Regions from separate parts of the Homo sapiens genome. Here all the other regions are linked to region 2. The links come from fine-mapping of genetic effects on gene expression. A gene starts in region 2. Each other region holds a variant in brackets. All regions are shown on one strand. Distances are from middle to middle.

Region 1 (5,102 bases), 83 kb before region 2:
AGGCATTGAAGATAAAGGAGAATGATAGATCACTTTATATCTGTGACCCTTTTAGTGGCGTTGTCTTTGATCACCTCAAAAAGGTTTGCTGACTTCTAGTGTGTACCTTTGGTAGTCTATTTTTTGGTTTATCTTTGCTTTAATGGACATACATTCTTTGCGGATTATAAAGTACTATGCAACTTATGAGTACATTGGAATTCTTTTGGTTTGGCAAGACCAGGATTGAAAGGCTAATTATGTTACAGTAGGCTTTTTTTGTTTGTTTGTTTGTTTTTGTTTTTGTTTTTTGGAGACAGAGTCTTGTTCTGTTGCCCAGGCTTTAGTGCAGTGGCACAAGCTCAGCCCACTGCAACTTCTGCTTCCTTGGTTCAAGTGATTCTTGTGCCTTAGCCTCCTGAGTAGCTGGGATTACAGATGTATATACACACCCGGCTGATTTTTTTATTTTTAGTAGAGAAAGGGTTTCTCGATGTTGGCCAGGCTGGGCTGGTCTTGAACTCCTGCACTCAAGTGATCCTCCCACCTCAGCCTCCCAAAATATTGGGCTTATAGATGTAAGCAGTAAGGCAGTTTTCAGTGAAAGGGGCTTTTGAAGTTTATTTCTTTTCTTTTCTTTTTTTTTTTCTTTTGTTATAGGGTCTCACTCTGTCGCCCAGGCTGGAGTGCAGTGACGTGATCTCAGCTCACTGCAACCTCCGCCTCCTGGGTTCAAGCAATTCTCTTGCCTCAGCCTCCCTAGAGACTGGGACTGCAGGTGCCCGCCACTGCACCCGACTAATTTTTGTATTTTTAGTAGAGACGGGGTTTCACCATGTTGGCCAGGCTGGTCTCGAACTCCTGACCTCAGGTGATCCACCCCCGCTCGGCCTCCTCTGAAGTGCTGGCATTACAGGCGTGAGCCACTGTGCCTGGCCTGAAGTTTATTTCTTTTGATAGCTTGCATTGTTTGATTTGCTTTTGTGTGTGAGTGTTTAATGTATAGTATCTCTGAGAAATTATATAGTCATCTTTATTTTTTTCTTGTAATGATTTGCTGATTTCTCTACAGTGGTCATCAACTTTGGTAAAGAATTGGTGAATGTTACAAAATGTAATTTTGTAAGACTGGTGGTCTTTTCCTTCTTAACTCATTTAAACTTTTCTCTTTTTTGTAGCTTGGCTGCAGAATTGTTGGTCCTCAAGTAGTCATATTTTGTATGCACCACCAGCGATGTGTCCCAAGAGCCGAACATCCAGTTTATAATATGGTTATGTCTGATGTAACCATATCTTGTACAAGTCTGGAAAAAGAAAAAAGGGTAGATATTGATCTCATGATGATTGATCAATTTATATATCTATCTCTTATTCTTAATTTTTCACTGCATAGAAGATAGCTTAAAAGACTTTCCGCTTATTGTTCGTGACTTTTAACAAAGTTCAGTATACAACCACAGTGTGTATATATGTATACATGTACATTTTTTAAGTAAATTGAATATAGTAGAATTTGTTTTGTTGAAAACTGGCTAATTGAAATTTTTTGTTTTAATTTAAAAGGACACTCATTTTTTAATCACTTACATTTTTCCACTATAGGTGGACAGTCTTTAAAAAAAAGGATTCTAAATCGTTTGAATCAGGGAGGTGGAGGTTGCAGTGAGCCAACATCACGCCACTGCACTGCAGCCTGGGTGACAGAGCAAGATTTCGTTTTGGAAAAAAAAAAAAAAAAGCATTCTAAGAGAGAGCTATAGAAATACATATATATATTTGGGACAGGGTCTTACTGTCACCCACGCTGGAGTGCAGTGGCACAATCACAACTCACTGCAACCTTGATTTCCTGGGCTCAAGTAATCTTCATGCCTCAGCCTCCCGAGTAGCTGGAATTACAGGCATGCACCACCAAGCCTGGCTAAAAATAAATATTTATATATTATATAGATATAATTTATGTTGTTAAAAATACACATGTATATTTATATAGAAGCAAAGATTAAGATTTATACATCCTTTGTATAATAGTTTAATACATTCATGGAGTTGAAAGGGATAAATATAGGAAAATAATATTTTAAAAATATAATTCATACTTATCTCCCAAAAAATAATTTGGTTAATTATTTAACTTTATAATGTTATGTAACACTTATGTATTCAAACTGTCAACAGCAAAATGTATTTATGAGATAGTGTATAAAAGTGGAAGCAATATTGTTTGCTTCAGCATTAATGTGTTCTCTTTTGGGGCTGCAGGAAGAAGTTCATAAATATGTACAAATGATGGGCGGACGAGTATACAGAGACCTTAATGTATCAGTAACTCACCTTATTGCAGGAGAAGTTGGTAGCAAAAAATATTTAGTTGCTGCAAACCTGAAGAAACCTATTTTGCTTCCCTCTTGGATAAAAACACTTTGGGAGAAGTCACAAGAGAAGTAAGAAAGACATTTTTATATTTTCTAGATTTGAAAAAATGATGCATTCAATCATTTTTGGCATGTGATATACTCTTTGGACTTACTATTCAGGGAAAAAAATAGTGTCATTACTCTTTTCTCCAGCGAAAACGGAAGAGCAGAATCTACAAGCTCTTATTACCAAGATATAAGTTGACAGGCATAGAATGGGCCAAGGGTTTAGCATTAGCTACAGAGTAGGAAATGCTTTGGTGATAAAGTTCTCAGCTGTAAATATTTCTGAAATAATTGAGAAAACGAGTTTGGCAATTCTGTAGCTTTTATGTTGCATTATCCTTCAACACCATTCCCATATGTTAAGATAGATAATAAATTAGTCATTTTGGCAGTTGCATTCCTTCCAAAAGATGGCATATGTAAGGTTGAATATAAACATATGCAAGTCATCAGCTGAGATGTGATCATTTAATAAATGCTAATTGAGCCCATTTTACGTATCTGACTTGAGGTAGGCATTAGGTATATGTAGTAAGCAAAACA[A/G]GATAGTCACTTCCCTCATGGAGCTTAGAGCCTATTTCAAGGGGCACACTTCAGTTTCCCCTGCAACTAGATAAACAACCACAAGACCAAACACCACAGAATTGTATTGGCATACGAATTATATCGGCACTTTTCTGGGCTTGTTTTCAACACCATCCAGCATATCCCAAATATGTCTCCATGTCAGCAACTCTCATTCCCAATGTGATTACTTCATCAGCACACCTCCCTAGCATGGCAACAGAATAATGATATTTTTGTTGGTATTTTGCCAAAAATCATTGCTTTTACTTGTATAGAATAATGGAAAGATTAAAAAGTTCATTTATCTAATAGGCAACCAAATTACCTTTGGGTTTTTAAGTAGAGATTCAGACTTATCATTTTGGAAAATATACTATGACCAGCAAGGGCTAGAGTTAAGGAAATATATATTTTTCCCTTAAAATGGTTTTGAGAGACTGTATCTGAAACAATTACTTTGTTTTAGAGACATGTTATTGAACTAGGTGAACAATTAGTGTAATTCTGTTTTGGTGGTTCTCCTTTGTAAAAAAAAGATTATAAATCCTAAAAAATGAGGGAAGCAATAGTGATATTTGTGTTGTTTTTCATTATTCTTCTGGTAAATTTAATATGTTCTTTTTTAACCATTTGATTCCCACAGAAAAATAACTAGATATACTGATATAAACATGGAAGATTTCAAGTGTCCTATTTTTCTTGGTTGCATAATCTGTGTGACTGGCTTATGTGGCTTAGACAGGAAAGAAGTTCAGCAACTCACAGTTAAGCATGGAGGTCAATACATGGGACAATTGAAAATGAATGAATGTACACACCTCATTGTGCAAGAACCAAAAGGTAAAACTGTGTTTCACAAAGGGACAAATGAAACATTTTCTCTAGTATTTAATATTTTATTTTTATTTATTTATTTATTTATTTTGAGACAGAGTCTTGCTCTATTGCCCAGGCTGGAGGGCAGTGGCACAATCTCAGCTCACTGCAACCTCTGCCTCCCTTGATCAAGCGATTCTCCCAACTCAGCTTCCCGAGTAGCGGGATTACAGGCACCTGCCACCACGCCTGAATAACTTTTTATTTTTAGTAGAGACGGGCTTTCACCATGTTGGCCAGACTGGTCTCTAACTGACCTCAATTGATCTTCCCACCTCAACCTCCCAAAGTCCTGGGATTACAGGCATGAGCCACCGTGCCCAGCCACTAATATTTAATATTTTAAAATCTTTACAGAACAGCTTTTACTTCTGACATGTCATTAATCTAGTTTGATACTGTTTTCTCTAACATCTTGCAAAGATGTTTTCTCTAACATCTTGCAAAGTTTTAACTGGAAGACACACCTTGCGGCACATGAGGCAGTAAAAAATGAAAAAGACATTACGAACAAGAAAAATTCTTTAAAATTGCTATTAAGTTTGGTGTTACATAACATTATTCTGGATAATTTTTTATCAGCACTCTTAAAATATACACAAATTGATAAAAGATGAGTTTTGTTAATGTTTTTATTATTGCCCTTTATATGTATACTGTGTTTTACTAAGCTATCTAGATTGAGAAGAAATTACGATTAAATGGTAATTGTCCTTAAGTCAGAACTTTGAGTATGGCTGATTGTGATAGGATCACTGTGAGTAGAGTTGATACTGCTGTTCTTTTTCTGAATCTGAAGACAGTTCATTGTTGATTCTCTCAAGAATGCCAAAAAACCTTTCATGTGACATATTGACCTCAATTCCTCTGTGATACTGCTTCAAAATACATTGTGTTGAAGATTTTTAAGGTAATAAAAGATACATATTTTCAATATAATTTATCTTTTGGCTTATCTATCCTGGACTTTAAGTAGAAGCCTGTTGACATTGGAATAGTCTGTTCAAAGTTGGGATTTATTATATAGCACAAATTTACAATTTTCACATTGTACAAGCTGGTTTAAAGAAATTAAGTGATGGAGCCTATATGCAAACCCAAGTCCAATATTAATTAAGTTACCCCACAGTTGCTTCTGTCTTCCTGCAGTTTGTATAAAAGATAAAACCTCTCACATGGCATATGTATTTATACTACACATAGAAAATATAATTAGGCAATAAGCTAAAATACTACTTTGTAATAAACTGTGTAGCA
Region 2 (5,102 bases):
CTGCTTTTTGAGTAAGTTATCTAAAGCTATAGATACTAACATCCAGAGAAGTCAAAAGACAGTTTTCAGTTAAGGAAAGTATTTCCTCCACTGTGCCTCGCACTCACTGGCATTGCCTATAAAATGCAACCTTCAAACTGGAGACAGTTTATCAAGATCCTTTATTTCTTTAAACCGGGAGCAAAGGATTTTTTCATCTTACAGCAGAACCATATCTTCATTTGTTTTTTCCTACTTTATGAACCCTCCAAAATATAGCACTTACTTAACATCAACCTTAAAGTTGACTGCCATAGACTGGACTTGACAAAATGTTAATTTCAAATCTTCTAAACTACCCAATTTTTAAAAATTACTATTTTTTTGAACTTTAAAAAATAACATGTTTACAAATATAATTCCATTCCTATGAAGTTTTAGAAAAAATTATGGTGTTAGAATAGTGGTTATGTTGAAGGTGAATGCAGTGAGTATGTGTTAGGAGGGGAACCTTGTTCTGTATCAGTAATACTCAGTTTCTTGACCTGGTGCTTATTGCACAGGTTGGTTGCACTGTGTGAACACATAAAACCTCTATCTCTCTGTAAGTATGATATACTTCAATTACAAAAACATATATTCACTTGCTTATTGGAGAGGATGTGAAAAACATCCACATTACTTTTGAAACCAAAACTAAGTACAATCACCGATGTTAAAAGTAAAAATTTTGAAGCGACAAAATCCACTTTAGCTGTCTCAAATGAAAAGTCCTAACCAGAACTGGAAGTAGGCAAGCTCTCACAGGATTTTAGAGTCAGCAGCTAATTTCATGAGCACACGGAAGGGCTGCCTCCATGGAGTGAGAAAGAGTAGACAGAACCCATTTGAGTCCTAATAAGCATATCTAGAGCACAAGGCTACTATGATGCTGCTTTGGGGCCAAAGGAAAACCTAACTTGTATCCAATATCTATCCCAAAGGTTATCTAAACACATTTGTAACCAGACTATACCTTATTTGCATTGCCTGAACCCTGAGGCCGCTGTAATCAACCTCTTTTTGCTCCAATTCTTTCCATTCATCTTCGTCCTGTAAAACAAACGCCATTTGATCAATTAAAGCTATTTGTAGACATATAACTAAGCAAATAACACACTACGAAAAGTGGATCAAGTGGCTGGAACCTAAACTAAGTATGTACTTGTCTTCTGGTCAAAGCCCTTGCTTCGTTCTGGGGCAAACTAGGCTAAATGGAGGACAAACATGCTCGTAGGCTAACACTATACTTCCGCTGGGTTCCTGCATGGGAGCTGTTACTTTAAGCAACTAAGAAAAGCCGAAGGAAGAAGTCAATAGGAATTTCACAACTACATTTCTACTTCAACCTTGCCACCGAGAGTTTTCTTTTTCTTTCACGGGCTTAGAGACTAAGTCATCACAAAAGAGCTGCTACAAATGCGGCTGCTGAAAGCGAAAATTCAGCTCAAACTACTGGGCTGAGGTCAGCACACGGAATTACTCAGCCTAGACGTCACCCGATAAACGCTGCTCTGTGCTGGGCACTGCGGCCCCAGACCTAGTGCCCCCGGAGGGTGGCGCCGCCCGGGCCTTGGCTAACGCCGAGCGACGCGGGGTGGGAAGGGCGGCTCCACCGCGGATATCGGAAGGGGTCCCGGCCCTGGCGAGCCCAGCCCGAGGTGGAGAGCCTGCGTCACGTGGCGGCCCGCGCCCGTCCGCCCGGCCTCCGCGGCCCCTCCCGGACGCTTCCCCGGCAGGCGGGGGCGGGCACATGGGGCGCCGGCGCGCGGCCCGGGCCCCGAGTGCCGGCCTCCCGGCCCCTCACCTTCGTCACAGCCTTGGTGGCGGCCCCTGGGCCCGCAGCCCCCGCGCTGGCGGTCCCGCCGTCACCCGGCCGGGTCCCCGCGCCCGCCCCGCCGCCCGCCGCACCCGCGGCTCCACTGCTTCCGCCGGCGCTGCCCGCTGCGCCCGCGGCACTCGCCGCCCGGTTGCTCCGCTCCTTCTTCTTCTTCTTGTCCCTCTTGGCAAAGAAGTTGTCCAGGCTCCGCTCCTCCGTCTCAGCCATGGCCTCGGCCTCCTCGACCCGGATGGGTGGGGCCGGCGGCGGGCGCGGCCCGCGGGGCTCCGAGCTCGGGGTCGAGGCCGGCTCTGCGCTCACGCTGCCGGGCGCGGCGACGCCTCAGCCCCGCGGGGTCGCCGAGGCGTGCGCGGCGAGACGGGCGGCTCCCCCTGCGTGCTGGCGAGCGGTGGTACGGTCCGCCCGGGGGCTCGCGCGCCGCCGCTGTCGCCCGAGGCTGCCGGGGCTGCCGCTGCTGCTGCGACGGCGGAGCAGGATTCCGCTCTCCCCACAACCTGAGGGGAAAAGGCACGCGCGAGCCAGAGGTTCTGGCGAGAGTGCTCGGCTAGCAGCGGCGCGTGCCGGAGGAAGAGGCGCGCGCGCAGGCCTGGAGAGGAGGGGAAGGGAGTGGGGAGGGGAGGGAGAGGGAGGAGGGAGGGCGGGCCGCTAGAAGAGAGAGGAAGCGCCTGCGCCTGCGTATTTTGCTCTGCCTGCCGCTGTGGGATCGCCAAGGGGCGGGCGGCGGGAGGAGATGGAGGCGGAGCTGGAAAGAGAGCCAATCAGGTGCCAGGACGAAGCTCTTAGGTGACAATCCCTGACCCAGACGGGGCGGAGTCCAAGCATGGGGGCGGGGAGAGGAGGGCATATGCAAAATAAGTGACGTGCCGGGCGACTCCGGTTTCCCGATTGGCCGAGGGTTTAGTCTTGAGGGCGGGCATGTTGAGGGCTGGTTGATGACTTGGCTAAAGAGGTCCAGCAGGAGGGGCAGTGGGTTCCTTTTGGACGCATGCGCAGGATGCACGTGTGTTTCCTGGCCCAGAACAAACCGTGGCCCCATAGTAGTCGTTTGAACTGTCGCGAAACGGACAGGCACTGCGTTAAGCCAACTGTGTTAAAGATTGTTCCTCTCCTCTGATCGCTTCTGTACTTCCACCCCCTCTGGAGTGGCAACCATTACTTTTCTTCTTTACCGGTTGATTGTGAAAGTGAGAGGAGCAGTGAGCCTGAAGTTTAGGTCCCATTTACTAAAAGATCTTTCATAGGCTGGTTGGTAGGTAGAAAGGGATTTTGTCTGAACTCCACCCTCTGGATTATGTTTACCAAGGTCAAGTTCAATAAATCCTATCGTCAAGTCCCTAATCTGTAAAGTGGGTATACTATTTCTTACAAGATAGGGGGATGGAGGGAAGAGAGTCAACATTATTAGCTGCTCAGCACATTGCTTAACGCCCTGACTTGAGTCTAGATGATGATACAGTTTATCCTTAGCTTCTATCCCTGATAAAAGGAGGGGACTGTCTTATCATAGGGGTGGAGACCAAAATGCCCAGGCGAAAGCCAGGTTTAAATGGGTTTAAAGCCCATTTAAATACCCTTGGGGCCTTGAAAATGAAATGAATTCTATATGCAAAAGGTGGTCTAAAGTAAGCTCTTAAACTTTCTACTTCCTCCTTCTAAAAGCAGAAGAGGGAGCTGTCACAACCATTGAGGAAATGACTCAGACAAATGTTGGTAGCCATATGGGGTAGATAGAATCCAGCCAGTAAATGGAGAGACTTCTTCGTCTTTTCCTTTACAGTTACCCCATTAAAGTTTCTCTTTTCCTACCCCCTACTTACACTGCTATTAAAGAATTAACTTCTGGCTGGGCGCGGTGGCTCACGCCTGTAATCCCAGCACTTCAGGAGGCCGAGGCAGGCGCATCACCTGAGGTCAGGAGTTCGAGACCAGCCTCACCAAAATAATGAAACCCCGTCTCTACTAAAAACACGAAAATTAGCCGGGCGTAGTGGCTAACGCCTGTAATCCCAGCTACAGGTTGAGGCTGGAGAATTGCTTGAACCCGGGGGTGCGGAGGTTGCAGTAAGCCGAGATCGCCTCATTGCAATCCAGCCTGGGCAACAACAGTGAAACTCCGTCTCAAAAAAAAAAAAAAAGTCTAACTTCTGAATGTCAAAAGAAATCAAGGACCTAGCCTTGGCCAGCAAGTAGCTTGAGCTTATACATATACTATTCCCCAAACATGAACAGCTCCCAAGGTGACTTCCTTCTATGACAACATATATCTTCCTGTGATGCAGGCCAGGTTCAGTACTGCCCATCACCATCACCCTCCCTTACCATCGCTAATCAAATTTATTTTCTTTCTTTTTTTTCTTTCCTTCTTTTTTCTCCCTTCCTCTTTTCTTTCCTTCTTTTCTTCCTCCCCCCTCTTTCTTCCTTCCTCCCTCCCTCTCTTTCATTTATTTATTTATTTATTTACTTACTTATTTTTTGAGGCAAAGTCTTGCTCTTGTCACCAGGCTGGAGTGCAATGGCATGTCAGCTCGCTGCAACCTCTGCCTCCCAGGATCAAGCGATTCTCCTGCCTTAGCCTCCTGAGTAGCTGGGATTACAGGCACCCGCCACCACACCCAGCTAATTTTTGTATTTTTAGTAGAGACGGGGTTTCACCATGTTGGCCAGGCTGGTCTCAAACTCCTGACCCTCGTGATCCACCCACCTCAGCCTCCCAAAGTGCTGGAATTACAGGTGTGAGCCACCATGCCCGGCCCTCTCCCTCTCTTTCTTTCCTCATCTATGAAGCACTTATTTTGCTATATTTCGGGCAAAGTGCTTTATTCAAAAGTGAGTAATTTGTGATTCCTGCATTCAATTCCCTTATAATCTAGAAGAGAAGATCTAGATATAAATAAGTTTCAGTTATTTATATCTTTCTTAAGTCCTTATCAATTCATCATTGTCTTGAAAGAATTAATGACTTGAGAAAATACACAGAAGGAACAGTAGTTGAGGGCTGACGCTGCAGAATTTCCCACTACATTTTTCAGTGTGATTGATGGCATGATCCCAGAACTTGATCATGTGTAAGAAATTCAGGTCAGGCCAGTAGAGAGACCAGTGTCTTTGTGGTTGTGTCATTGTTTGTAGTAATTCTCTCCTCTGTGAAGCTGGTCCCTTCCTCTTTGAATCACCTGCCCTAAAATTGACAGCATCTGTTCCCATCAGTTGCTCCTTTTAAACCTCCCCTACCACCCTTCTCCAG
Region 3 (5,102 bases), 160 kb after region 2:
CTGAGGAGGTGGGAAGAGAGGGGAGAGAACAGGGGTGAGTAGAGGGGAGAGGACAGGGGTGAGTAGAAGGTAGAGGGCAGGGGTGAGTTAAGGCGAGAGGGCATGGGGGACTAGAGGGGTGAGTAGAGGGGAGAGGATAGGGATGAGTAGAGGGGAGAGGACAGGGGTGAGTAGAATGGAGAGGATAGGGTCTAGTAGAGGGGTGAATAGAGGGGAGATGACAGAGGTGAGTAGAGGGGAGAGGACGGGTGAGTAGAGGGGAGATGGCAGGGGTGAGTAGAGGGGAGAGGACAGAGGTGAGTAGAGGGGAGAGGACAGAGGTGAGTAGAGGGGAGAGGACGGGTGAGTAGAGAGGAGAGGGCAGGGGTGAGTAAAATGGAGAGGATAGGGTCTAGTAGAGGGGTGAATAGAGGAGAGGTGACAGAGGTGAGTAGAGGGGAGAGGACGGGTGAGTAGAGGGGAGATGGCAGGGGTGAGTAGAGGGAAGAGGACAGGGTTGAGTAGAGAGGAGAGGGCAGGGGTGAGTAGAGGGAAGAGGACAAGGGTGAGTAGACGGGAAATGGCAGGAGTGAGTAGAGGAGTGAGTAGAGGGGAGATGGCAGGGGTGAGTAGAGAGGAGAGTAGAAGGGAGAGGGAAGGGATGAGTAGAGGGGAGATGGGAGCGAGGGAAGGGATGAGTAGAGGGGAGAGGGCAGGGGTGAGTAGAGGGGAGAGGGTAGGGGTGAGTAGAGAGGAGAGGATGAGGGTGAGTAGAAGGGAGAGGGTGGGGTGAGTAGAGGGGAGATGGCAGGGGTACGTAGAGGGGAGAGGGCAGGGTGAGTAGAGGGGAGAGAACGGGGTGAGTGGAGGGGAGATGGCAGGGCCGAGTAGAGGGGTGAGGACAGGGGTGAGCAGAAGGGAGAGGGCAAGGGTGAGTAGAGGGGAGAGGACACGGGTAAGTAGAGGGGAGAGGACACGGGTAAGTAGAGGGGAGAGGCGGGGTGACTAGAGGGGTGGATAGAGGAGAGATGGCAGGGGTGAGTAGAGAGATGAGAGAGGGGAGAGGGCAGGGGTAAGTAGAGGGGAGAAGGCAGGGGTGAGTAGAGGGGAGAGGGCAGGGCTGAGTAGAAGGGAGAGGGCAGGGATGAGTTGAGGGGAGATGGCAGGAAGGAGTAGAGGGGTGAGTAGAGGAGAGAGGGCAGAGGTGAGTAGAGGGGAGACAGCAGGGTGCATAGAGGGTGAGTAGAGGGGAGAGGACGGGGTGAGTAGAGGGCAGAGGACGGGTGAGTAGAGGGGAGAGGGCAGGGATGAGTAGAGGGATGAGTAGAGCAGAGGGGGCGGGGTGAGTAAAGGGGAGAGAACAGGGCTGAGTAGAGGGGAGAGGACAGGGGTGAATAGAAGGGAGAGGGCAGGGGTGAGTAGAAGGGAGAGTGTAGGGGCAAGTAAAGGGGTGAGTAGAGGTGAGAGGGCAAGGGTGAGTAGAGGGGAGAGGATGGGGAGAGTAGAGGGGTCAGTAGAGGGGAGAGGGCAAGGGTGAGTAGAGGGGAGAGGACAGAGGTGAGTAGAAGGGAGAGGACAGGGGTGAGTAGAGGGGAGATGGCAGGGGTGAGTATAGGGGAGATGGAAGGGGTTAGTAGAGGGGAGATGGCAGGGTGTATAGAGGGATGAGTAGAGGGGAGAGAACAGGGGTCAGTAGAGGGCAGACACAGGACAGGGATGAGTAGAGTGGTGAGTAGATGGGAGATAGCAGGCATGAGTAGAGGGGAGACGACAGGGTTGAGTATAGGGGAGAGTAGAGGGGAAAGGGCAGGGGTGAGTAGAGGGGAGAGGGCAGGCATGAGTAGAGGGGACAGGACAGGGGTGAGGAGAAGGGAGAGGACGGGTGAGTAGAGGGGAGAGGACAGAGTTGAGTAGAGGGCAGAGGACAGGGGTGAGTAGAGGAGAGAGGACAGGGGAGAGGGCAGGGTTGAGTAGAGGGGTGAGTAGAGCGGAGGGGGCAGGGGTGAGTAAAGGGGAGAGAACAGGGCTGACTAGAGGGGAGAGGACAGTGGTGAAGGGGGAGGGCAGGGGTGAGTAGAGTGAGAGAACGGGTGAGTAGATGGGACATAGCAGGGGTGAGTAGAGGGAAGATGGCAGGGTGTGTAGAGGGATGAGTAGAGAGGAGAGGACAGGGGTGAGTAGAGGGGAGAGGACGGGGTGAATAGAAGGGAGAGGGCAGGGGTGAGTAGACGGGTGAG[C/A]AGAGGGGAGAGGTCAGGCGAGTAGAGGGGAGATGGCAGGGCTGAGTACAGAGGTGAGTAGAGGGGAGAGGGCAAGCGTGAGTAGAGAAGAGGGCGAGGGTGAGTAGAGGGGAGAGGGCAGGGGTGAGTAGAGGGAAGAGGGCAGGGGTGAATAGAGGGGAGGTGGTAGGAGTCAGTAGAAGGGTAAGTGGAGGGGAGATGGCAGGGATGAATAGAGGGGAGATGGCAGGGTGCATAGAGGGATGAGTAGAGGGGAGAGGACAGGGGTGAGTAGAGGGGTGAGTAGAGGGGAAATGGCAGGTGTGAGTAGAGGGGAGATGACGGGTAAGTAGAGGGGAGAGGGCAGGGATGAGTAGAGGGGTGAGTAGAGCGGAGGGGGCAGGGGTGAGTAGAGCGGAGGGGGCAGGGGTGAGTAGAGGGGAGAGAACATGGCTGAGTAGAGGGGAGAGGACGGGGTGAATAGGGAGAGGGCAGGGGTGACTATAGGGGTGAGTAGAGGGGAGAGGACAGGAGTGAGTAGAGAGGAGAGGACAGGGTTGAGTAGAGGGGAGAGGACAGGGGTGAGTAGAGGGGTTTGTGGAGGGGAGAGGGCAGGGTTGAGTAGAGGGGTGAGTAGAGGGGAGAGGACACGGGTGAGTAGAGGGGAAAGGACAGGGGCGAGTAGAGGGGAGAGGGCAAGGGTGAGTAGAGGGGTGAGTAGAGCAGAGGGGGCAGGGGTGAGTAGAGGGGAGAGGACAGAGGTGAGGGGAGAGGGCAAAGGTGAGTAGAGGGGAGAGGACAGAGTTGAGTAGAGGGGAGAGGATGGGGAGAGGACGGGGGAGAGGGCAGGGTTGAGTAGAGGGGTAAGTAGAACAGAGGAGGCAGGGCTGAGTAGAGGGGAGAGGACTGGGGCAAGTAGAGGGGAGAGGACAGGAGTGAATAGAAGGGAGAGGGCAGGGATGAGTAGGGGGGTGAGTAGAGGAGAGAGGACAAGGGTGAGTAGAGGAGAGATGGCAGGGGTGAGTAGAGGGGAGATGGCAGGGTGAGTAGAGGGGTGAGCAGAGGGGACAGGGCAGGAGTGAGTAGTGGGGAGAGGACAGGGATGAGTAGAGGGGAGAGGGCAGGTGTGAGTAGATGGAAGAGGGCAGGGGTGAATAGAGCAGACGTGGTAGGAGTGAGTAGAGGGGTAAGCGGGGGGGGGGTGGCAGGGTGAGTAGAGGGGAGAGAATAGGGGTGAGTAGAGGGGAAATGGCAGGGGTAAGTAGAGGGGATAGGGCAGTGGTGAGTAGAGCAGAGATGGCAGGGTGAGTAGAGGAGTGAGTAGAGGGGAGTGAGACAGCGGTGAGTAGAGGGGTGAGTAGAGACGAGATGGCAGGTATAAGTAGAGGGGAGAGGACAGGGCTGAGTAGAGAGGAGAGGGGAGAGGGCAGGGGTGAGTAGAGGGGTGAGTAGAAGGGAGAGGGCAGGGGCAGGTAGAGGGGTGAGTAGAGGGGAGAGAGCAGGGGTGAGTAGAGGAGAGAGGGCAGGGGTGAGTAGAGGGGAGAGGGCAGGGGTGAGTATAGGGGTAAGTAGAGGGGAGAGGGTAGGGGTGAGTAGAGACGGCAGGGGTAAGTAGAGGGGAGAGGACGGGTGAGTAGAGGGGTTTGTGGAGGGGAGAGAGCAGGGGTGAGTAGAGGGGTGAGTAGGGGAGAGAGGGCAGGGGTGAGTAAGGTGAGAGGACGGGGTGAGTAGGGGGGACAGGACAGGGGTGAGTACTGGGTTTTGTGGAGGGGAGAGGGCAGGGGTGAGTAGAGGGATGAGTAGGGGAGAGAGGGCAGGGGTGAGTAGAGGGGAAAGGGCAGGGGTGAGTAAGGTGAGAGGACGGGGTGAGTAGAGGGGAGAGGATGGGGGGAGTAGAGGGGTTTGTGGAGGGGAGAGGGCAGGGGTGAGTAGAGGGGTGAGTAGGGGAGAGAGGGCAGGGGTGAGTAGACGGGAGCGGACAGGGATGAGTAGGGCGTGAGTACAGGGGCCAGGCAGGCGTGGGCAGTTACATTCAGCAGGGGACTTTGTCTTCTGCATAATTTTTCCCAGAGCCTGCTGAAATGCGGGGGCTTTCTAACTTCCACACTGTAGTGTTATTTAGTTAGCGCTTATTTAGATGGTTATTCGTTGGTCCTGCAATAAACATGTAACTAAAAAGGACAAGTTGTTTTCCAGTGGTGGTCAGTTTGGTGGTGGAGATTTCCACTCCTGTGCCCTGCATTCACTCCCTCCTGAGGACTGCTGAAATCACTTCTCGTTTCTGCTGAATAATGCACTTGTGACAGCCAGCTCTACTAGCTCGTTTACAACCAGATCAATGAGTCTTTATGTGCTTTTCCCCAGCCAGACGACAATAAACTAGGTTTTATTTGCCTAAATTGAGTCCTCAAATTCGGTGGATCAGCATAAACCCTCTGGGAGAGCGCTGGGGACCCTGAGTAACATTCTGCTTGGTTCAGCCATTCTTTCACTAATTCCCCCGTAAAAAGCCACCACATTTGTCCTCAGCACTTGTGCCAGCTGCCTGGATTAGTTTTAATTTAGCTCTTCTGGAGAGTGTAGCCCTTTAGAACATCTTTCCTATTGCTCTTCTGTACGCTTGTTTAATTTGGCTGGGTTTGTTTTGAGAGGAGCTGTGGAGATGGGTCTTCTCTCCCACCGGGACACGTCAGTAGAAAGGTTCTCTTGCTTCCGTGGAGTTCTGAAGGCTTCCCCTGCCCCAAGACCTGATAGGAATTACTGCTTCCCCCACCCCAAAAGCCACTGACAGGACTTTTATTTATTACTGCATATTTTATTTAAGGTAAAACCTCCAAACAGTGTCAAAGAGTATATACCCCAAAGTAAGCCTGCTCCTGCCCTGTCTCCAGCCCCAGCCCTCTCACC
Region 4 (5,102 bases), 28 kb after region 2:
GCCATGCTTAGAAATATTTTTGAATGCCAAGGCAAAGCCACATCTGTTTCATTTGACAGGCAGAGCTGAGGTCACAGTTGGCCTGAAGTGAAAAACCCGAATTCTTGCAGGGACTAGACAAGATTAGTGGTCTAGGCATAAAAATAATCAGGAGGCAACCATGACCCAACTCCAGCTCACACCACTCAAGAATACAGTCACCTGGCCAGAACCTTTGATTTTTCAAAAGAAGCAAAACAACAAAAATCCAAAAGCTTAGGTAAAATCTCATAATTTAAAATTTTTAGCAACTACTTAAAAATGTGTGCAGGTGGAACAAAACTTGTCTAAGTGCCAGATGAGGCCCCTGGGTAGCTACAGAAATGTCTGTTCTCCCCAGGTGTCTGCAGGACTAAGCTGTGGTGTGGAGAGCCGCTGGGCAGAGGTGGTACAGGGAGGATCAGAGAAAGCTCCAGCAAAAGGCTTCTGCTGCTCTAACTTTCTTTCTATCCTGATGAAGAAACCCAAAAGCATTCCTCTCTGAGGTATTTGCATTTTTGGAATTTCTTTCTATTTTTGTCTTTTGGAATCCTCCCTAGCACTGGTTTGCTGGGGAACTATGAACTGGGCCTGGCAGCTTGTGTTAGGCTGTTTTTGCATTGCTATAAAGAAATACTTGAGACTGGGTGGTTTATAGTAAAAGAAGTTTAACTGGCTCATGTTTCTGCAGGCTATACAGGAAGGATTGTGCTGGCATCAGGACTCAGCTTCTGGGGAGGCCTCAGGGAGATTTTATTCTCAGCAGAAGGCAAAGCAAGGAGCTTGCACGTCACACAGCAAACACAGGAGCAAGAGAGAGTAGGGGAGGTGCCACGCACTTTAGACAACCTGACCCAACACCTCCCACCAGGCCCCTCCTCCAACACTGGGGATTACATTTCAACATGAGATTTGGCAGGTACACAGATCCAAACCATATCACAGCTGGTTTTCACTTTTCAGGCTTCCGAACAGAAAAGTCTTATATAACCGATCTCTTTTCAATGGTTAGTTGCTTGTCCCAAGGGTGAAGACTCTTATAAGCATTGTGTGTGTGTGTGTGTGTGTGTGTGTGTGTGTGTGTGGTGTAGGAGCAGGGGAGAGAGAGGGAGAAAAAGAGGGAGAGACAGCTTCCTTCTCCTGAAGGACTTTCTCAAGATTAACAGCATATTCTGTGGCCTGAGCTTTCTGAACCTGGCAGGAGCTGACTCTTATGGGAACAGAACTCTGCCTGTCATAGTCTCAGGTTGGGCCACTGACTTAGCTCATAATCTTGACTGACTACCTTAGATATAGAGGCTATTAGCAAACCATTGTAGAGGAAAATGTTCCTTTATATTATGCCTGTGAACCTCCATGCACTGGGATGAGAGGTAACATAGGGGAAGAAATATTAGAATCCGTGGAGCTAGAATAGAATGCTTTATTTACTGGATTACCTTGGTAAAGTCACCTCACCTCTCTGTGCCTTATTTCCTACAAGCATAAAAGCTAGCCAGAAATATTCACCTCACAGAGGTATTATGAAGATTCTATGAGATCATGGACACAGAAGTGCCTGACACCTGGTTATGCTGGATCAGAGAGAAAAGAATGAAGAAATTGGAGCTAAGGAGATGTGGATTTAAATCTTGACTCCACGACTTATAACGACAACTACCATGAATTCAGTAATTTCTATGTACCAGGCTCTGTGCATTACCTTTTTTTTTTTTTTTTTCAGACGGAGTTTCGCTCTTTCGCCCAGGCTGGAGTGCAGTGGCATGATCTTGGCTCACTGCAACCTCCGCCTTCCAGTTTCAAGCAATTCCTCTACCTCAGCCTCCCAAGCAGTTAGGACTATAGGCACCCGCCATCACGCCCAGCTAATTTTTGTATTTTTAGTAGAGACGGGGTTTCACCATGTTGGCTAGGCTGGTCTCGAACTCCTGACCTCGTGATCTGCCCGCCTTGGCCTCCCAAAGTGCTGGGATTACAGGCGTGAGCCACTGTGCCCGGCCCTCTGTGCATTATCTTTAAAATCCTTGCAACGAGATAAATCAGCGGGCCGGGCTGGCGGGTCGGTGAGCGCGGCCCGGGCCGGACATGGCGGCGCTCTACGCCTGCACCAAGTGCCACCAGCGTTTCCCCTTCCAGGTGCTGTCTCAGGGGCAGCAGCTGTGCAAGGAATGTCGGATTGCACACCCTGTTGTGAAGTGCACCTACTGCAGGACTGAGTACCAGCAGGAGAGTAAAACCAATACAATATGCAAGAAATGTGCTCAGAACGTGCAGTTGTATGGAACGAGAAATTAAGGTGGACTGTGTTAAAAACACATTTAATAGGCCGAGCGTGGTGGCTCATGCCTGTAATCCCAGCACTTTGGGAGGGCGAGGCAAGAATCATGAGGTCAGGAGATCAAGACTATCGTGGCTAACACGGTGAAACCGCGTCTCTACTAAAAATACAAAAAATTAGCCAGGCGTGGTGGCATGCGCCTGTAGTCCCAGCTACTCGGGAGGCTGGGGCAGAAGAATCACTTGAACCCGGGAGGCAGAGGTTGCAGTGAGCTGAGATCATGCCACGCACTCCAGCCTGGGTGACAGAGCAAGACTCCATCTCAAAAAAAAAAAAAACAAAAAAAAAAAAACACATGTAACAAAGAAAGATTTCTCAGTTTCTTTCCTGGTTCTATTATTGACCTTAAAGAAGATATTCATATTTTGTTTTGTTCATTCATAAAATGTGGACCATTATATTCTAACATTTCACGAGAATATGAATTACAGTCATCACGTAAGTGAAATGGTGATTGCCAGAATTCTGTGGAATCCTGTAAAGGAGAGATTGTAACTTAAGCAAGATGGAGTGGCATTACCAGTTTTACTATCTGGCTCTTTAAATGTTTCTATCTGTTGAAATTCAAGATTACAAGATTACGTTAGAGGGAAGCTCTACGTGGAAGGGTA[G/T]ACCTTGATAGAATCAAAATGATTTAGAGTTTGGGCATATTACTCTCTTGCTTAAAATCCTCCACGGGTTTCCAGTTGTGCTTAGAATAAAACTGAAATCCCTTCTATGGCCTGCAAGGCCCATACCCAGCTCTCAGTCTCATCTTGCATCATACTTTCTACCTCTCACCTTGCTCCAGCCATCCTGGCCACCACCCTGTAGTCTGTCTGACATGCAGATCTCACTCCGACCTTTGCACTGTCTGTCCTTGTGCCTAATGCACCCTTCTCTAGAGTCTCATAACTGGCTGATCATGTCAGGTCTCAGCTCAGGTACCACCTGCTCACAGTGACCTTTTACTGACTCCCTTAGTCATTATTTATCATACCATTTTATTGTCTTCATAGCATCTCACATATTGAAAACTAGTCTTGCTTATTTGGTTACATGTTTGTCCACCCCGACTAGAATGTGAGCTCTTTGTCCATCTCATTCTCTGCTTTATTTCCAGTGGCCTGGCACATAGTAGCTGCTCAATAAGTATTTGTTGAATAAAAGATGGCAGTTGAGAAACTCTTTTTCAGTGACCAGAGGTGCTTTTAAGAGGTGCTTGGGCTCAAGGGGTGACTCTTGCTTACCAAATTCATTAACTTACAATGGAAGGATATAACTTTCCATTGACCAGGATACTCCTGCCTGCCAACCAGGACACCTCTTCCCTGTATCAAGATACTGAAGAATCTTAATTAGTAATCAGGAGGTAGCACAAGCAGCAGTCCCCCAAACCTGGGTCCCATCTGACTCCTGGGGCTAGCTGAATGACCCTGGCTACTTGGCCGCATTATGCATCACTTTCTTCATCTTTCTCCATGGGAATAACAATAGTTATTGTCTCACAAAGACATGTCTCACAAAGACATGGGGAAATGTAATTCAGATAGGTATATAAAACAATAATATTGAACCTGGCACATAATATAACTCAGAAAAAAATAAATAAATAAAATCCTTGCAACAACTCAGCATGAATGAAAGAATCATGATTATTATCCTCATTTTACAAATGAGGAAACTGAGGCACAGAGAGGTTAAAATAACTTGCCCAAGGCTTCACACAGGTAAGTGGTGAAGCCAGCCTATCTGATTCCAGAGCTTGTACTTTCTAGCTATGTAATTTAGTATAAGCCCCATAAGTTTTCTTATCCTCAGTTTCTACAGCTATAAAATGAGGGCATCTTTGTGAGGATTAAGAATAATGTATATAGGCTGGGCGTGGTGGCTCATGCCTGTAATCATAGCACTTTGTGAGGCTGAAGTGGGCAAATCACTTGAGGTCAGGAGTTCGAAATCAGCCTGGCCAACATGGTGAAACCCTGTCTCTACTAAAAATACAAAAATTAGCCAGGTGTAATGGTGCATGCCTGTGATCCCGGCTAGTTGGGAGGCTGAGGTAGAATTGCTTCAATCTGGGACACGGAGGTTGCATTGAGACAAGATCGTGCCATTGCACTCCAGCCTGGGTGACAGAGTGAGACTCCATCTCAAAAAAAAAAAGAAAAAAAGGAAAAGAAAATTTAAGAATAATGTATATAAAATGACTGTCACGGCAGTTCCTGATATTTCATAGATATTAACTATTTTTACTAACTCCTCAGTGTTACGGATTGAATTGCATTCCCTTGAAAGATGTTGAAGTTCTAACCCGTAGTGCCTGTGAATGTGACCTTATTTGGAAATGGGGTCCTTGCAGATGATTAAGTGAAGATGAAGACATTAGGGTGGAAAGTTTGGACTCAGAGACAGAGATGCACACAAGGAAAAGGCCATGTGAAGATGAAGAGATTGGAGTGACGCGCCAACAAGCCAAGGAACAACAAAGATCGCCACCAAAACACCAGAGGCAAGGAGAGAGGCCGAGAACAGATTCTCCCTCATAGCCCTTCGAAGGATCCAAGCCCATGACACCTTAATTTTGGACTTCTACTCTCCAGAGCTGTGAGAGGATACATTTCGGTTATTTTCAGCCACCCAGTTTACGGACTTTGTTATGGCAGCCTTGGGAAGCAAATGCACTCAGTACATGTTAATTTGTATCTTACCTACTTTGTACTTGCAAGGTGTCTCTGGGTCTCTGGTGTACACCACGGCCTGCCCT
Region 5 (5,102 bases), 58 kb before region 2:
TAATTTTTTTGTAGATACGGGGATCTTACCACATTGCTCAGACTGGCCTTAAATTCCTGGACTTGAGCAATCCTCCTGCCTTGGCCTCCCAAAGTGTTGGGGTTATAGGTGTGAGCCACCACGTCCAGCCAAAGAAAAGAGCTCTAAGCAACACCTTGAGGTGCTCACCTTTAGAGGAGGAACCAGCAAAGGAGACTGAGAAGGAGCTATAAGAGAAGAGGAAAGCCTAGAGCTTATTTCAAAGAGCCAAGTATTTCAAAGAGGGAGGAGGGGTTAACTATGTCCAGGACTGCTCTAAGATAAAGAAAGGTGAGAATAGAAAATTGGCCAGTGGATTGAGCATTATGAAGGTCAATGGCGTCATCATAACAATAAGGGTTTTGGTGGCATGATGGAGGTGGAAGCTGGTGTGGGTTCATAAAGAAATGAGAAGAATCGGAGACATTGAGTGTAAACAACGATTTTTGAAGGAATCTTGCCATAAAGGGGAGCCAAGAAATGGAGTTGTAGTTATGGGGCAAAGTAGGGTCAAAAGAAGGTTGTTTTCTTTTTAAGGTGGAAGAAATAGCCAGGCTCAGTGGTGCATGCCCATAATCCCAGCACTTTGGGAGCCCAAGACGGGAGGATCACTTGAGTCCAGGATTTCAAGACAAATCTGGGCAACATGGCAAGACCCTGTCTCTACAAAATACACAAAAATTAGCTGGGTGTGGTGGTGCACGTCTGTAGCCCCAGCTAGTTGGTAGGCGGAGGCAGGAGGATTGCTTGAGTCCAGGAGATAGAGGACGCAGTGGGCAGTGATCATGCCGCTGTACTCCAGCCTGGGTGACAAACTGAGACCCTGTCTCAAAAAAAGAAGAAGAAATAACTATATGCCAGTGTAACTGCCATTAGAGAGCCAATTGATGATGCAGATGAGAGAAGGAAGACTTGCAGGAGGCTTGAGTCTGAGAGGCATTGGGATCTACTTCTTAAGTAGAGGAAGGTACTAGTGGCACGTGTGCTGAAGGCAGATAGATGTGGTATGGGAGCTTCTGATTTTTATATAAGGAATCCTCTAAAATGCTTTGAAGAAATTTTAAAAAGTTTAGCATATAGAAAGACTTACCATGTTCTTGCAAAATAGATTTAAACATTGTCAAGATCTATAAAGGTGTATTAATCTGTTTGCACATTGCTATAAAGAACTACCCCAGACCGAGTAATTTATTCTTATTTTTATTTTTTTATTTTGAGATGGAGTCTTGCTCTTGTCACCCAGGCTGAAGTGCGGTGGCATGATCTCGGCTCACTGCAACCTCCGCCTCCTGGGTTCAAGCAATTCTGCTGCCTCAGCTTCCCAAGTAACTGGGATTACAGGCGCCTACCCCCACACCCGGCTAATTTTTGTATTTTCAGTAGAGACGGGGTTTCACTGTGTTGGGCAGGCTGGTCTCAAACTCCTGACCTCAAGTGATCCACCCACCTCAGCCTCCCAAAATGCTGGGATTACAGGCGCGAGCCACCACGTCCAACTTTATAAAGAAAAGAGGTTTAATTGACTCAGTTCCACAGGCTGTACAGGAAGCACCACTGGGGAGGCCTCAGGAAAATTACAATCACGGTCGAAAATGAAGGGGAAGTGAGCACGTCTTTCATGGCTGGAGAAGGAGGAAAAGATAGCGGGGGGAGATGCCACACACTTTTAAACAACTGGATATCAGCCAGGCGCAGTGGCTCACGCCTGTAATCCCAGCACTTTGGGAGGCCAAGGTGGGTGGATCACCTGAGGTCAGGAGTTCAAGACCAGCCTGGCCAATATGGCGAAACCCCATCTCTACTAAAAATATAAAAATGAGCCGGGTGTGATGGCATATGCCTGTAATCCCAGCTACTCGAGAGACTGAGGCAAGAGAATCACTTGAACCAGGAGGCAGAGATTGCATTGCACCAAGGTCGCGCCACAGCCCGGGCAACAGAGTGAGACTCCATCTCAAACCAGATATCATGAGAACTCACTCATTATCACAAGAACAGCAAGGGGGAAATCCGCCCCCATAATCCAGTCAACTGCCACCAGGCTCCTCCTCCATCATTGGGGATTACAGTTCAACATGAGATTTGAGTGGGGACACAAATCCAAACCATATCAAAAGGTAATGTAGGTCCTAGAAAAAAATGCAAGCAGAAACAATATTAAAAAAAATCTGAAAAGTATAATTGCAGGTAGGCAGTAGCCCTACCGTTTATTAAAACCTCCTATAAAGTTGCAGTAGTTAAAACA[G/A]TGTGGTGTCACGTGAATAATCAAGTTAGTGTATAAGATTATACTCCACAAATAGGGGAATTTATTATGTAATAAAGGTGGCATTCAAATTGGACAATTAGGTAGCCATCTGAAAATACGTTTGTAATTAAAGCTCACACTTTACATCAGAATACTTTTTAGATGATCAACTTTTGGGGTTTTTCTTGAAATAGGATCTCACTTTATCACTTAGGCTGGAGTTCAGTGGCATCATCGTGGCTCACTGCAGCTTTGACCTCCTGGGCTCAAGCAGTCCTCCCACCTCAGCCTCTGGAGTAACTCAGACTAGAGGTACATGACACTGTGCCCAGCTAATTGTATTTTTTGGAGAGGTAGAGTCTCACCATGTTGCTCAGGCTGGTCTAGAACTCCTGGGCTCAGGCAGTTCTGCCTTGGCCTCCCAAAGTGTTGGAATTACAAGCGTGAACAACCACACCCAGCCTAGATGATCAGATTTAAACATAAGAAATGAAGCCATAAAAATTCCCAAACATGTCATGAATTTGTTTCTAAAATAATCCTAGTGTGGGGAAGGCCTAACTATAACATACACTCCAAAAGAAATAGAAGATTCGTATGAATTTGACAGCATTAAAAATTCTCTAACTGGGTGTGATGGCACATACCTATAGTCCCAGCTGACAAGGGAGGATTGCTTGAGCCCTGGAGGCAGAGGTTGCAGTGAACTAAGATTGAGCCACTTCAGTCCGTTCTGGGCAAGAGAGCAAGACCCCGTCTCAAAAAACAAAAAAATTACAGCGAGTCACCGTGACTCACACCTGTAATCCCAGCACTTTGGGAGGCCAAGGCGAGAGGATTGCTTGAGCCTAGGAGTTTGAGACCAGCCTGGGAAAGACGGCAAGACCCTGTCTCTATGAAAAATTTTAAAATTAGCTGAGCACAGGGTTGTGCATCTGGAGTCCCAGCTACCTGGGAGGCTGAGGTGAGAGGATCCTTGAATCCAGGAGTTAGAAGTTACAGTGACCTATAATCATGCCACTGTACTCCAGCTTGGGTGACAAAGCAGGACTCCATCTCTGAAAAAAAAAAAAAGCTCCATGGCAAAAATTTGACAAATGATAAATTGAAAATAAATACGTGGGTATTATATCACAGTTGATACATGCACATATAAATTCATACAAATGAATATAAAAGTATATTCATACAAGCGAATATATTAAAAAAAAGACTAACAACCCAGTAGAAAAATGGGCAAAGGATAGGAGCAGATAGTTATCACAAAAAATTAGATATAAATATACATATAGCCAGGCGCGGTGGCTCACGCCTGTTATCCCAGCACTTTGGGAGTCAAAGGCGGTTGGATGATGAGGTCAGGAGTTTGAGATCAGCTTGAGCAACATGGTGAAACCCTGTCTCTACTAAAAATACGAAAAATTAGCCAGGCATGGTGGTGCATGCCTGTAGTCCCAGCTACTCGGGAGGCTGAGGCAGGAGAATCGCTTGAACCCAGGAGGCAGAGGTTGCAGTGAGCCGAGATCGCGCCATTGTACTCCAGCCTGGGTGACAGAGCGAGACTCCGTCTCAAAAATATATATATATATACACACACACACACATATAAAGATATTTAACCTCATTCAGTATAAAAGAGTAGAAAATTAAAGCATACAGATAAAATTTTTTAGTCTTATCAGATTGTCAAAAAAGAAAAATCTGATTACTGTGATATCAAGCACGTTTGGAAAACACACACACTCATACTTTGCTCATGAAAATGTCAACATTGGTAGATACATGTTGGTCTTGTTTTTTTAGTTTTTTTAAAAAGAAATTGGGTCTAACTGTGTTTCCCAGACTCGTCTCAAAACTCCTGGTCTTGAGCTGTCTTCTTGCTTCAACTTCTCTGGAGTAGCTGAGATTACTGACAGGAGCCACTGCACTGGGCTGGTAGATACATTTTGCTTAAAAGGTTTCCTTTACTCTTGTGTGTGCAAAATGGTTTGTGTACAAGGTTATTCATTGCATCATTATACTTGCAAAAGACTGTTAACCGAAAGCTTATCAGTTGTACACAGGTTAAATACATTCTGATACATACATGGAATACTATACACATGCAAAAGAGAATGAGCAAGCCATTTGGACAACAGTAGCTTCCTTTCAGGAGGGAACTGTTGGTGGCTTTAGAACAGGAATATATTTTGAACTTTTGAAGATTTTTTTTTTTTTAATTCTCAGCTCATTTTGACTTTCTAACCTTCCTTATAATCCATTTCTTGATTATATCCGTCGTTGCTTATTTGTTTCCTTCTGGGTTTTTTTGGTTTGTTTTGTTTTCAAATTCAACTCTAAGATTCAGGTAAGAGACAAGCACTGCTGAAAATGTAAGCTAGTTAGTCTCTTTGAACCAATTTGCTGGACAGTATGGAATTTTTGTTCACAGTATATGGATTTGATTATAGTTTATTCTTTTTCTTGTTATTTGGAGGAAAACTAGAGGAAGTTAAACTGTAATCCATTAATTTTGAGGATTCTCCCCCTTCTCTCTCTTTACCCCTCTCTCCTCCTCTTTCTTTTTCCTGTCCTATTAACCCATCTTGCTTCTCTCTCTCTCTCTTCTTTTCTCCATCTCTCTCTCTCCTTCATATGTATAGGATGCACTTGCAGCCTTGGAAACTCCAGGACGTCCCAGCCAACAGAAAAGGAAACCGAGTACGCCACTCTCAGAAGTTATTGTCAAAAACTTGCAACTTGCTTTGGCAAATAGCTCTCGAAATGCTGTCGCTCTTTCTGCCAGCCCTCAACTGAAAGAGGCCCAGTCAGAGAAGGTAGGATTAGTTCTCTTATTAAA

Direction of the effects. Positions count from the first base shown, and alleles are read on the strand shown. Sizes are in standard deviations (SD) of each study's normalised expression. Not every link is listed here.
In carriers of allele C in region 3, the expression in prefrontal cortex of the gene that starts at base 2,424 in region 2 tends to be lower than with A alone (moderate effect, 0.69 SD a copy in ROSMAP).

What was found. PIP is the estimated chance that this variant, and not a neighbour inherited with it, causes the effect.
Region 1: its variant is the best candidate, but not a certain one, in a credible set for the expression of CDV3 in whole blood (INTERVAL, PIP 0.90).
Region 3: its variant is the best candidate, but not a certain one, in a credible set for the expression of CDV3 in prefrontal cortex (ROSMAP, PIP 0.81).
Region 4: its variant is the best candidate, but not a certain one, in a credible set for the expression of CDV3 in adrenal gland (GTEx, PIP 0.74).
Region 5: its variant is the best candidate, but not a certain one, in a credible set for the expression of CDV3 in whole blood (INTERVAL, PIP 0.86).

What each region holds. Positions count from the first base shown.
Region 1 is chr3:133,653,997-133,659,098 of GRCh38, reverse strand. It overlaps TOPBP1 (DNA topoisomerase II binding protein 1), which reads left to right. Exons shown (of 28, transcript NM_007027.4): 3 at 1-83; 4 at 1,158-1,301; 5 at 2,242-2,423; 6 at 3,613-3,809. Among named protein-coding and RNA genes, the nearest start is that of TOPBP1, 5.4 kb to the left of the region's middle. The variant A/G (reference allele first, on the strand shown) is at 2,946.
Region 2 is chr3:133,571,008-133,576,109 of GRCh38, reverse strand. It overlaps CDV3 (CDV3 homolog), which reads right to left and starts at 2,424. Exons shown (of 5, transcript NM_017548.5): 1 at 1,826-2,424; 2 at 995-1,071. The coding sequence starts at 2,065. RefSeq lists silencers at 1,456-1,845, 1,876-1,985, 2,006-2,545 and enhancers at 2,926-3,095, 2,752-3,253, 3,196-3,435.
Region 3 is chr3:133,413,082-133,418,183 of GRCh38, reverse strand. All of the region lies in intron 1 of BFSP2 (beaded filament structural protein 2), which reads right to left. Among named protein-coding and RNA genes, the nearest start is that of BFSP2, 16 kb to the right of the region's middle. The variant C/A (reference allele first, on the strand shown) is at 2,217.
Region 4 is chr3:133,543,273-133,548,374 of GRCh38, reverse strand. It overlaps the pseudogene FAM76AP1. Among named protein-coding and RNA genes, the nearest start is that of CDV3, 28 kb to the left of the region's middle. The variant G/T (reference allele first, on the strand shown) is at 2,968.
Region 5 is chr3:133,628,537-133,633,638 of GRCh38, reverse strand. TOPBP1 (DNA topoisomerase II binding protein 1) reads left to right here. Exons shown (of 28, transcript NM_007027.4): 15 at 4,906-5,079. Among named protein-coding and RNA genes, the nearest start is that of TOPBP1, 31 kb to the left of the region's middle. The variant G/A (reference allele first, on the strand shown) is at 2,264.